Linked DNA regions of Homo sapiens: all the other regions are linked to region 2. The links come from fine-mapping of genetic effects on gene expression. A gene starts in region 2. Each other region holds a variant in brackets. All regions are shown on one strand. Distances are between the middles of the regions. Region 1 overlaps NR2F6 (nuclear receptor subfamily 2 group F member 6). Region 2 holds the start of BABAM1 (BRISC and BRCA1 A complex member 1). Region 3 overlaps UNC13A (unc-13 homolog A).

Region 1 (4,136 bases), 26 kb after region 2:
GTAATGGGGAGCCATAGAGGGTGTGTGAGCAGGAGAGGGCTCTGATCAAATTGGACTGGAGGCCAGAAGCCCAGGGAGGAAGCTGAGTTGGGCCATGGGGTTGGGCAAAAAAGCTTGCACTCTTTAGGTGGGATAACAGGAAGAACTTAACTGTTTCCCTCCTTGGAGGGATGGATCTGTCCCAATTCCACAGCTGGGGAAGTTGAGACTGAAGGTTCAGGGCCTCCCCTGAGGTCAGGGGCCCCTGAGCTGGGCCTCTGCCTGCCTGCAGGGCCGCCCCAGGCCAGGCCGTTTCCACCCGGCTGCCCTGGACCCTCCCACCACCCAGCCGCTGGGCTTTGTTCTGGTTCTGCCTGAGCTCCCTCTGCCCTAGTGGGGCCTCTTCCCAGGGGCTCAGTGGCTGGTGCTGCAGGACCCAGGCAGTGGTGGAGGGGGGGTACGGGGGAGTGGGCGCAGATCCTCAGCTTTCCTAAGTTGGGTTCTCCGGCTGGGCTCTGGGTCTTGGCACTGTCCCCCGTGAACCCCTCTGACCCAGTCCATCCCATATGATAGGGCAATATCTGACCTCCCATTTTCAGATGAGGAAACCGAGGCTCAGTGGGGCAGTCGCCACCTGAGGGGCAGGGCTGGGTATCTGCAGCTGAGATTCATCTGTTTTGTTTTGTTTTGTTTTGTTTTTGAGACGGAGTTTCACTCTTGTTGCCCAGGCTGGAGTGCGATGGCGTGATCTCAACTCACTGCAACCTCTGCCTCCCGGGTTCAAGCGGTTCTCCTGCCTCAGCCTCCCAAATAGCTGGGATTACAGGCATGCGCCACCATGCCCGGCTAATTTTGTATTTTTAGTAGAGACAGGTTTTCTCTATGTTGTTCAGGCTGGTCTCAAACTCCCAACCTCAGGTGATCCGCCCGCCTCGGCCTCCCAAAGTGCTGGGATTACAGGCATGAGCCACTGCACCCAGCCTTTTTTTTTTTCTTTTTTTTTGAGACAGAGTCTCACTCTGTCACCCTGGCTGGAATGCAGTGGGTCAATCTTGGCTCACTGCAACCTCCACCTCCCCAGTTCAAGCGATTCTCCTTCCTCAGCCTGCCAAGTAGCTGGGATTACAGGCATGCGCCACCACGCCCAGCTCATTTTTGTATTTTTAGTAGAGACGGGGTTTCACCATGTTGGCCAGGCTGGTCTTGAACTGACCTCAGGTGATCCACCCTCCCCCGCCTCCCAAAGTGCTGGGATTACAGGCGTGAGCCACTGCAGAGATGCATCTGTTTAATTCCCTTAAGTGGTGGTTCTACTCTGTGACTGTCTCTGTGTGTCCCCTGGGTGTCCAGCTGGAACCCCAGGGGTAGTTGCTCCAGGCCCAGGCCTTGGAGAGCCCCCAGCTCCTGGTGGCAAGAGACCAGGGGAGTCCAAGGGCAGGGGCCAAGGGGAGAAGGTTCTGGGGACATTTGAAGAATAAGGCCTGGACCTTCCTGCTTGGGGGCTGACCCAGGATGGGGAGCTCACCACCTCTCAGGGTGGGGCCACCTGTCTCATCCCTGCAAGAGGCAACGGCATTCACTGAGGGCTGACCAGGAAAATCTCCAGCTTGCATAGGGGTTGGGTGGTCCTCTCGGAAGAGCGTAGGTGTGGGGCCTTCAGGGCTGAGGACCAGAGTGACTTTGTTTACTTCCTCATTCCTTGGGGTGGGCATTGTGCGGGTGATAATGCTGGGGCCCCACAATGCTATGACCCCACAGACCACTAGCCCCTGGCCTGACCCCTAGTTAATTCACAAAGTCCAGCTCTCTGACCATGTCCTCTTTGCCTTCACATCTTTTTGGGGACAATGACCCTGCTCAGCCTGACAGTGACCAAATAAAATGAAACTCTTTAGGCCTCCATATTTGTGTATTTCAACCCTTTTGCTCTGGCTGTACCCTCTCTCTGGGATCACCCCGCCATTCACCTGGAGAACTCCTATTCATCCTTCAAAACCCATGCCAATGTGCCCTCCCTGGGGTGTTCATCTGCTTTTCCACAGATTCCTCTTCATCCATCACCACTCATCCGGGTTATCCTGTCTGGTTTGCAGACCTGCAAGCTGAGCTCCTGTACCCCTTTGGGGCTACCTCTCCAGTCTAGAGGGCCCCTACTAGTATTTCTGAGGGGCAGCCTCCAAAGGCGGCTCATAGGCTGGTTCGGGGAGGAGGATATGGGGGTCTCAGGGAGCCCTGGCTTCTGTGTGCCCCCAGGTCCAACCGTGACTGCCAGATCGACCAGCACCACCGGAACCAGTGCCAGTACTGCCGTCTCAAGAAGTGCTTCCGGGTGGGCATGAGGAAGGAGGGTGAGTACGTGCTGGGGACACACTGGGGACGATCACAGC[C/T]GCTGGAGCCGGGGTGAACAAACAGCTTCTTCCTCCCCTTTTTCCCCTCCCTTTCACCCCTCCCTTTCACAGGGGTCTGGGTGCCTCACAGGGTGGGGGCCGGCGCCTGCTAACCTCATTACCACTGATCCCTTGATCCCGTGGGCTGCAGTCTGGCCCTAGGCTGGAGGAATCCAATTAGGATCCGTGGCCCCCTGGTTGCTGCCGTGGAGCTGAAGAGGCCAGGGACGCCCCACAAGGGACTTTCCCCAGCCCCATTCTCTTGCAGGAGCTGCCTTCCCCAATTACCCCCGACTCCAGCCTCAGAGGCCAGTTCCCTGGCCCTGACACCTTGGTGACCTCTTGTCTGCTAGCGCGGCCACCGCGTTCTGAACAAGGATTTTTTTTTTTATTTGATTTGTTTCTCCTCCACCCTTCACCCATGCTTTTTGTTTGCCCAAGGCAGGAACTCTGCCCGATTAAGGCAAAGGGCAGCTTACCCTTTCTTCTGACCCCGGGCGCTGGGAGCAAGAGTGAGGCCCAGCTGTCTCTGCTCAGGGGACCCAGGTGGACGGGCGTATTCTGGGCTGCTGGGCCTAGAACTCTGCCAAACCCCCTTAGAATTCAAGTAGAACCCAGAGATTTCTGCATGGATTTCTGGGGTTCAGGAATAGAATCTAGCCTATTGGACGAGATCTCCTGTGCTGGGTTTCAGGTTCCTCTGGGGACTGTGTCGTGGGCCAGGCTGGCAGTTCTTTCTAATGTCTAACCTGAGCCTCCCCTGCTTTGAAGTTTTTTTTTCCTTATTTTCTTTATTTATTTTTATTTTTATTTGAGATGGAGTCTCGCTCCATCTTCCAGGCTGGAGTGCAGTGGTGTGATCTCAGCTCACTGCAGCCTCCGCCTCCCGGGTTCAAGTGATTGTCCTGCCTCAGCCTCCCGAGTAGCTGGGACTACAGATACGGGCCAACACGCCCAGCTAATTTTTTTTTTTTTTCTGAGACTGAGTCTTGCTCTGTCGCCCAGGCTGGAGTGCAGTGGCATGATCTCGGCTCACTGCAGGCTCCGCCCCCTGGGTTCACGCCATTCTCCTGCCTCAGCCTCCGGAGTAGCTGGGACTACAGGCGCCTGCCATCTCGCCCGGATATTTTTGTATTTTTAGTAGAGACGGGGTTTCACCATGTTAGCCAGGATGGTCTCGATCTCCTGACCTCGTGATCTGCCTGCCTCAGCCTCCCAAAGTGCTGGGATTACAGGCGTAAGCCACCGCGCCCGGCACGCCCACCTAATTTTTGTATTTTGTTTTGTTTTGTTTTTGAGACAGAGTCTCGCTCTGTTGCCAGGCTGGAGTGCTGTGGTGCCATCTCGGCTCACTGCAACCTCTGACTCCCTGGTTCAAGCGATTCTCCTGCCTCAGCCTCCTGAGTAGCTGGGATTACAGGCACATGCCACCACGCCCAGCTAATTTTTGTATTTTTAATAGAGATGGAGTTTCACTATGTTGGCCAGGATGGTCTCGATCTCCTGATCTCGTGATCTGCCCGCCTCGGCCTCCCAAAGTGTTGGGATTACAGGCGTGAGTCACCGCGCCTGGCCTAATTTTTGTATTTTTAATAGAGATGGTGTTTCACCGTGTTGGCCAGGCTGGAGTCTCCAACTCCTGACCCCAGGTGATCCGCTCGCCTCAGCCTCCCAAAGTGCTCGGATTATAGGCATGAGCCACCCCACCCGGCAGCTTTTTTTATTTTCTAGAGACAGAGTCCCACTATGTTGCCCAGGCTGGTCTCGAAC
Region 2 (4,124 bases):
CTCCTGAAGTGTTGAGGCTCCCATCATCAGCACTGGCGGCCTCACCCTCACCCTCGCTGCGGCTGCCCACGCTGGCCTGTGCCCCTACTGCCCGGTCCTCAGCCCCTTCAGGATTGGAGCGAGTGCGGGGCCGAGGCTCTGCCGAGTGCTCCTCTTCCTCCTCCTCCTCTTCAGTGGGGCTGCTGGGCTCTGCCACTTCCATGGCTCCTGTGTGGCTAGATGGAACACGGACAGGGGAAGCCAGAATCCTCCCCTTGGAGTTTTAAAAACATTTGGTTACGGTCGGGCACGGTGGCTCATGCCTGTAATCCCAGCACTTTGGGAGGCCGAGGCAGGTGGATCACCTGAGGTTGGAAGTTCGAGACCAGCCTGACCAACATGGAGAAACCCCGTCTCAACTAAAAATACAAAATTAGCCGGGCGTGGTGGCGCATGCGGATAATCCCAGCTACTCGGGAGGCTGAGGCAGGAGAATCGCTTGAACCCGGGAGGGGAGGCTGCGGTGAGCCGAGATCCCGCCACTGCACTCCATCCTGGGCAAAAAGAGCGAAACTCCGTCTCAAAAAAAAAAAAAAAAAAAAGATTGGTTACTAAGAAGGAAGAGGGGCGATGAGCCGCTTACTGATGATGAGTCACTCCTCTTAGGGAGTCACTTTCCTCAGCTGCAGAATGGCTGCCTTTTACACCTCTCAGCCGAGCAGCCACTCCGACATAAGATAACAGTCCCCCCTCTTTTTTCCTCTTTTTTTTTTTAACGTAGTGCTAGCCCCATGCCCCTACTCGGCCAGTGAGCACATCCCAGCTCTCTGGCCACTGAAAATGGCTCAGGGATGGGCACATGACCCAAATCAGGCCATTGAGTGGCAGCTCTGCAACTTCTAGCAGTGTCATCAAGGAAAAGAGACTCTCATTAGAGTTGCAGAGCTGGTAGAATAAAGTTGAGAGCTGTGAGGGGCCCCTTTTGCCTCGGTAAAAAGCGAAATGGTCTCCACCGAGAAAACTGCAGATCGAATTCTGACCACCTGGACCCAGCTCCTGTTAGACCCAATCTATAAGCCACCAACTTCCTTTTCTTCCTTAAGCCAGATTGAGTAGGGTTTTCTGTTACCTAAAACTGAAAATGTCTTGGTGAATAAGGGAATAATAACCTCTAGGACACCCTCGTCCCTAGCGGGTGTCTGCATGAGGGAGAAGCAAAATATTAGTACTGTGGTTCCCCTTGGAGAGAAACAGGACGCGAATGGAGCAGTTTGTCTATCTGGGAAATAGGCACGGGCTTCCCAAGATGGTCTTTGAGCGCCTTGCAGTCCCCACACCTCTAAGAAAAACAAGGCTTTAGCGGCAGCAAGAAGGATGGAGGCTACACTGCAGGAGAAACCAGAAATAAAGGCGGAAGCCCCAGGAAAGGCGAGGAGCTGGATCTCTTGGGGCAAAGGGAGCTGGGCCCCTAGGAACGGGCCCCACACGCTTTCACCACCCACCTTCGGCTCACCGTAGCCTGAACCTCCTTCTAAATCAGCCGCCGACTCACTAGGAAGCCGCCATCTTTACAGCCGGAAGTTGTACGGCGCAGCCCCGACGCCTCCTGGGAAATGTAGTTCAGCGGGCTGCAGAACAAGCAGAGACAGAAACTGGTTGAGGCTAGAAAGAACTTGGAAACTGATAGGCTGAAACTGGGTTGGGGGTGGGGTTTGGAGTGAGAGCTGCCTGGAGCTGGGTGCGGCGGGACCTGGAATGTGATTGGCTACACTGGAGCAAAGTATGAAATGTGATTGGATTAAAAAAATTAGTGAATTTTTGTTTTTGGCCGAATCAGACTACAATAGTCAGTGCTTCTACCGTGATAGGCTGAAACGTGGAATAGAGGTGGAGCTTGCAATGTGATAGGCTAAGAGGGACGGAGAAGGCCGATTTAGGGAAAGAGGAGGAGCTGATTGGTGATTGGTGGAGCTGGCCTGAGCCTCCATGTGGGGCAGGTATTCCCATGTGGGTGTGGCCTGAGCATCCAGGGCCCTTCCCAATTACTTAATTCTTGTTCCTTATTTTACATATATTTGCATGAATCAAAAAATACTTACTCTGGTCTTATTGGGTCACTGTAGGTGGAGCGAAGCTAAGTCGGGCCTATTTCAAGCCTACCTCTTTTTTCATGGCTTTTTTTTTTCTTATTTTTAGAGACAGGGTATCGCTCTGTCGCCCAAACTAGACTGCAGTCACGCGATCATGGCTAGTCACTACAGCCAAGCGATCGCTCAAGTAGCTGGGACTACAGGCGAGGACCACCGCATCAGACTACCCTAGGCTTCCTTCCTTTTTTTTTTATTTTTATTTTTTAGATGGAGTCTCACTCTGTCGCCCAGGCTGCCGTTGTCTTCTTAGTGCACACTTCCCCCTTAGCCCCAGAAGTATTTATTTATTTATTTTTATTTTTTTGAGACAAGAGTCTTGCTCTGTCGCCCAGGCTGGAGTGCAGTGGCTCAATCTCGGCTCACTGCAACCTCCACCTCCAGGGATCGAGCAATTCTCCTGCCTCAGCCTCCCAAGTAGCTGGGATTACAGGCATGCACCACCAGGCCCGGCTGAGATATATATAGTATTTTTAGTAGAGCTGGGTTTTTGTTGTGTTTTTTTTTTTCGTTTTTGTTTTTGTTTTTTTGAGATGGAGTCTCGCTGTGTCACCTAGAGCGGCTCTTTGAAGGCTCTAAGCCTTTGCCCAGGAAGTTCCTTCTGCCTGGAATGCTGTTCCTCCTGTTGCTTTTCTGGCAAGTTCTTTATGCTTCAAAGCTCACCTTACACAGCCCCTCCGGCTATTCTCGAATTAGAGCCTGGCCAATGTGGCCGGCTTCTTTGACCCTCAAAAAAAAAAAAACAACTGAGGAGTTGGGGGCAGTGGCTCACACCTATAATCCCAGCATTTTGGGAGGCTGAGGTGGGTGGATCACGAGGTCAGGAGTTAGAGATCAGCCTGGCCAATATGGTGAAACCCCGTCTCTACTAAAAATACAAAAAATTAGCTGGGTGTGGTGGCGCGCACCTATAATCACAGCTACTCAGAAGGCTGAGGCAGAAGAATTGCTTGAACCCAGGAGGTGGAGGTTGCAGTGAGCCGAGATCGCACCACTGCACTCCAGCCTGCGTGGCAGAACAAGATTCCATCTAATAAAATAAAATAAATAAATAAACTGAGGCTTCAAGTGGCTCTTAAATGTTTCTGGGGCTGGTGGGGTCGGTGGCTCATGCCTGTAATCCCAACACTTTGGGAGGCTGAGGTGAGTGGATCACCTGAGGTCAGGAGTTTAAGACCAGCCTCGCCAACATGGGAAAAACCCATCCCTAGCCGGGTGCGGTGGCTCACGCCTGTAATCCCAGCACTTTGGGAGGCCGAGGCTGGCAGATCACTTGAGGTCAGGAGTTCGAGACCAGCCTGGTCAGCATGGTGAAACCCTGTCTCTACTAAAAATACAAAAATTAGCTGGGCATTGTGGTGGGCACTTGTAATCCCAGCTACTCGGGAGGCTGAGGCAGGAGAATTTCTTGAACCCAGGAGGTGGAGGTTGCAATGAGCCAAGGTTGCGCCACTGCACTCTAGCCTAGGCGACAGAGCAAGACTCCATCTCAAAAAAAAGAGAACTGTCAGCCCACAATGAAGAGACAGGCAGAGAAGAAAAGTTCACAGGGGAGCCAAATAAAAACCATCAGCTCACGGGAACATTCTAGCTCTTTTTTTTTCTTTCTTTTTGAGACAGGGTCTTGCCTTATTACCCAGAATGGAGTGCAGTGACGTGACCACGGCTCACTGCAGCCTCAACTTCCAGGTGTTAAGCAATCCTCCCACCTCAGCCTCCTGAGTAGCTGGGACTACAAGCGTACGCCACTACTCCTGGCTAATTTTTATATTTTTTGTAAAGACGGGGGTCTCGCCATGTTGCCCAGGCTTGTCTTAAACTCTTGGACTCAAGCGATCTGTCTTCCTCAGCTTCCCAGAGTGCTGGGATTACAGGTGTGAGCCATGGTGCTCGGCCCATTCTAGCTCTTGAGAAATAAAATCCAAGAGTCAGAGCTAGAAGGGCCATGAGTTTGGAGGCTGAGAAGAGGAGGGGCTGAAACCTTGGGAGTCAGGTATG
Region 3 (4,136 bases), 410 kb before region 2:
AAGCAAGGTGTGAGAGGTGTTGGCAATGGAAACTGAATACCTGTTGAGAAGAGCCAGGAGGGGGCGACATGGCTTTGAATCTCTTGGGGCTGTGAGATTATGTGAAATGTGAGAAGACTGGACCTCAGTGGGGTGCCTGACATATATTCAGGTTACACCTCCCACAAGCAGGTGGGGCTGGACAATCTCTGTCAACCCTCCAGCCAGGACCCAAGTGTCTCCCTGTACATTACTTTTGGTTGTTGTTGAGACAAGAATCTCACTCTGCTGCCCAGGCTGGAGTGCAGTGGCATGATCTTGGCTCACTGCAATCTCTGCCTCCTGGGTTCAAGTGATTCTCCTACCTCAGCCTCCCAAGTAGCTGAGACTATAGGCGCCTGCCACCACACCTGGCAAATTTTTGTATTTTTAGTAGAGACAAGGATTCACCATGTTGGCCAGGCTGGTCTTGAACTCCTGACCTCAGGTGATCCACCTGCTTCAGCCACCTAAAGTGCTGGGGTTATAGGTGTGAGCCACCGTGCCTCGCCCTCCACATGCATTTTGAGAGCCAGCTCTCTGGGTTGCTTTGTCCCAACTCACCCAGCCTTCTTTGAGGCTTCCCCAAACCCTGGGAGCATTTGACATTGCAGACTGAGCTGGACAATCAAGGGAGAGGTCTTGCTGACCTGTCGGGGCTGGTGGAGTCATCAGAGATTGTCTTTATCCTCGCCTTCTTCTTCTCCACCTCCTCAACTTCCCCTCTTCTTCTGGGGCAATCCTGGAGGGCTTCTTGTAGGAGGCCTCTCCCACCATCTGCCCAGCTCTTTCTTTCTAATCTTGTTCAATTGTGGGTAAAGGCACAGCTAGTTGGGAGCTTGGGGAGTTTGATGGGGACAGGGGATGCAGGGAGAGGGAGGGGCAGGGAATGCTCTCAGGGTCCAAATTTCCTTCCATTCTAGGGTTGCCTGTGCTCATCTGTCTGATGGCTTCTCTCTCTCCCTCTCATCCCTGCCTCCTCTTTCCTACCTCTCCTCCTCCCCTTGTCTCTGTCTCTGACATTGCTTCTATCTTTCTTTTTTAACATCTGTCTCTTTTGCTTTTTATCTTTGCCTGTCTCTCCTCTGTGTCTCTCTCCTTATGTCTCCATCTTGGTGTGTCTCTGAATCTCTCCGTATCTCTGCCTCCTCCTCCCCACATCTCTCCCCACCTCCCTTCCCTATCTCTGTCTCTCTCCACAGTCAAAAAAGCCAAGTTTGATGGTGCCCAAGGTAAGTGGCTTCTCTTGCTGTCCTGTCCCGTGTTGTCTGTCTGTCTGTCTGTCTCTTGGAGAGACTGGGAGGGGGTCCCAGCCCAGACTTAGAGTTGGGCTTTATGTCTTCTGAGCATCAGGAGAGGGGTCAGAAGATTAAATAGGGGGAGGGGCAGCCATTGGCCTGGGGTCCCTGCAGTTTGTATGGGGGTCCCCGGGTCTCCCCAGCCATCCTTGGAGAGTCTGTAAGGGGTGGGGCTTGCCCTGAGCCAGTGGCTCTTCCCAGGGTCCTAAGAGGTAGAATGGGGACTCTTAGATGGGGCTACAGGTGGGAAAAATGAGGCTCAGAGAGGCGAAAGGAGTTTCTTTCTTTTCTTCTTCTTCTTTTTTTTTTTTTTTTGAGACAGAGTCTCCTTCTGTTGCCCAGGCTGGAGTGCAGTGG[C/T]GTGATCTCGGCTCACTGCAACCTCTGCCTCTGGGTTCAAGCAATTCTCCTGCCTCAGCCTCCCAAGTAGCTGGGATTACAGGCGCCCTCTACCACGCCCGGCTAATTTTTTTATTTTTAGTAGAGATGGGGTTTCGCCATGTTGGCCAGGCTGGTCTCAAACTTCTGACCTTAAATGATCCGCCCGCCTCGGCCTCCCAAAGTGCTAGGATTGCAGGCGTGAGCTACCGTGCCCTGCCTTTTTATTATTATTATTTTTATTTAAAATTTTTATTTTTTGAGGCTGGAGTGCCGTGGTGCAATCATGTTTTACTACAGCCTCAACCTCCCAGGCTCAAGCAATCCTCCCACCTCAGCCTTCCAAGTAGCTGGGACCACAGGCGTGCACCACTGCACCCAGCTAATTATTTTTTTGTATTTTTTAGTAGAGATAGGGTTTTGCCAAGTTGCCCAGGCTGGTCTTGAACTGCTGGGCTCAAGCAATCCTCCCCCCTTGACCTCCCAAAGTGCTGGCATTATAGGCGCGAGCCACTGCACCCAGCCTGCAAAGGGGGTTTCTTACAGTCAATTTTGTTCCCCTTTTCTGGGACCTCAGTCTTTTTAGCTGAAAACCAATGGCATGGTCATTTCGAAGCAGCTGGATGAAGTATCCCAAAATTCCACGTCTCCCCACACTGAGGCCCCTCCCTTGTGCCCTGAGGGTGGGGTTGTGGGTTAGGGGGTGAGTGGCCCAGAAATTCCTGAGGGGATCACAGCAGATGGTCTAGAGCTTGGGAAGGGGCATTGGAGAGTCCCTGAGCCCCAGCGCTGACCCCTACTCTCACTGCCACAGAGAAATTCAACACGTACGTGACCCTGAAAGTGCAGAATGTCAAGAGCACGACCATCGCGGTGCGGGGCAGCCAGCCCAGCTGGGAGCAGGATTTCATGTTGTGAGTCTGCAGCGTCTGGCATGACCTCACTCCCTGGCATAGCCCAGCACCTCGCTGGCCCCTCAGGGCAGAGCTGGACACTGGGGAATCCCGGGTGACTCCCCTCTGTCCTCCCTCTTCCCCTGTCCACCTTATCACCTTCACCTCCAAAACACATCCCCAATCCAATCACTTCCCTTGGTCTCCGCAGCCACCAGCCAAGTCCCTGCTGCCCGCCAGCCTCCGCCCTGGCCTCCTGTGCCATCCACCTCCTACAATCTGTTCTCCTCCAGGCAGCCAGGGGGATATTTTTAAAACTGCAAATCACATCCTGTCGCTCCCATGTTCCAAACTTGTCCGTGGCTCATCGACCTCACAATAAAACCCACAGCCTTCCCCGTGATTCCCACCAGGTTCTCGCTCTATCTCCCTCACCTGCCCCAGCCACACCCACCTCTGCCCCTTTCTCCAACACTTCCCAGCTTGTTCTTGCCCCAGGGCCCTTGCACTTGCTCTCCTGTCCCCAGCTGGCTCTTCTCCTTCAGGTCTCAGCTTGTGTCACCTCCTCAGTGAAGCCCTCCCTGACCACTACCTCCAAGCTACAATTTCAGGGCATCATGCCTTCCCAGGCCTTGCCACCAATTTTGTTTGTTTGTTTGTTTGTTTTGAGGCAGAGCCTCACTCTGTTGCCCAGGCTGGAGTACAGTGGCATAATCTCGGCTCACTTCAACCTCCACCTCCCAGGTTCAAGTGATCCTCCTGCCTCAGCCTCCCAACTAGCTGGGATTACAAGCGTGTGCCACCACACCCGGCTAATTTTTGTGTTTTAAGTAGAGATGGTGTTTCACTATGGTGGCCAGGCTAGTCTCAAACTCCTGGACTCAGGTGATCCGCCCACCTCAGCCTCCCAAGGTGCTGGGATTATAGATGTGAGCCACCATGCCTGGCCAATGGAATTTTTTTCCTTTTTTTTTTGTTTTGTTTTGAGACAGAGCCTCACTCTGTGGCCCAGGCTGGAGTGTAGTGGTGCAATCTCGGCTCACTGCAACCTCTGCCTCCTGGGTTCAAGCTATTCTCCTGCCTTAGCCTCCCGAGTAGCTGGGACTACATGTGCGTGCCACCATGCCCGGCTAATTTTTGTGTATTTAGTAAAGACCGGGTTTCACCATGTTGGCCAGGCTGGTCTTGAACTTTTAACCTCAGGTGATCCACCCGCCTCGGCCTCCCAAAGTGCTGGGATTATAGGCATGAGCCAGGAGCCACCAATCCCAGCCAACAGATATATATATCAGATATATATATACTTTTTTTTTTTTTTTTGAGACTGAGTTTTGCTTTTGTTGCCCAGGCTGGAGTGCAATGGCGTGATCTCGGCTCACCGCAACCTCCGCCTCCTGGGTTCAAGCAATTCTCCTGCCTCAGCCTCCCGAGTAGCTGGAATTACAGACATGCACCACCACGCCCGGCTAATTTTGTATTTTTAGTGGAGATGGGGTTTCTCCATGTTGGTCAGGCTGGTCTTAAATTCCCAACCTCAGGTGATCCGCCCATC

Evidence for each region.
Region 1: its variant is fine-mapped to the expression of BABAM1 in whole blood (TOPMed, PIP 0.98).
Region 3: its variant is fine-mapped to the expression of BABAM1 in putamen (GTEx, PIP above 0.99).

The regions. Positions count from the first base shown.
Region 1 is chr19:17,238,862-17,242,997 of GRCh38, reverse strand. NR2F6 (nuclear receptor subfamily 2 group F member 6) reads left to right here. Exons shown (of 4, transcript NM_005234.4): 2 at 2,233-2,327. Among named protein-coding and RNA genes, the nearest start is that of NR2F6, 5.0 kb to the left of the region's middle. RefSeq lists a silencer at 3,565-3,743. The variant C/T (reference allele first, on the strand shown) is at 2,367.
Region 2 is chr19:17,264,885-17,269,008 of GRCh38, reverse strand. It overlaps BABAM1 (BRISC and BRCA1 A complex member 1), which reads right to left and starts at 1,566. Exons shown (of 9, transcript NM_014173.4): 1 at 1,482-1,566; 2 at 1-215. The coding sequence starts at 202. RefSeq lists enhancers at 1,078-1,789, 1,297-1,796, 2,057-2,516.
Region 3 is chr19:17,673,126-17,677,261 of GRCh38, reverse strand. It overlaps UNC13A (unc-13 homolog A), which reads left to right. Exons shown (of 44, transcript NM_001080421.3): 2 at 1,221-1,250; 3 at 2,506-2,605. Among named protein-coding and RNA genes, the nearest start is that of UNC13A, 13 kb to the left of the region's middle. RefSeq lists an enhancer at 110-179. The variant C/T (reference allele first, on the strand shown) is at 1,674.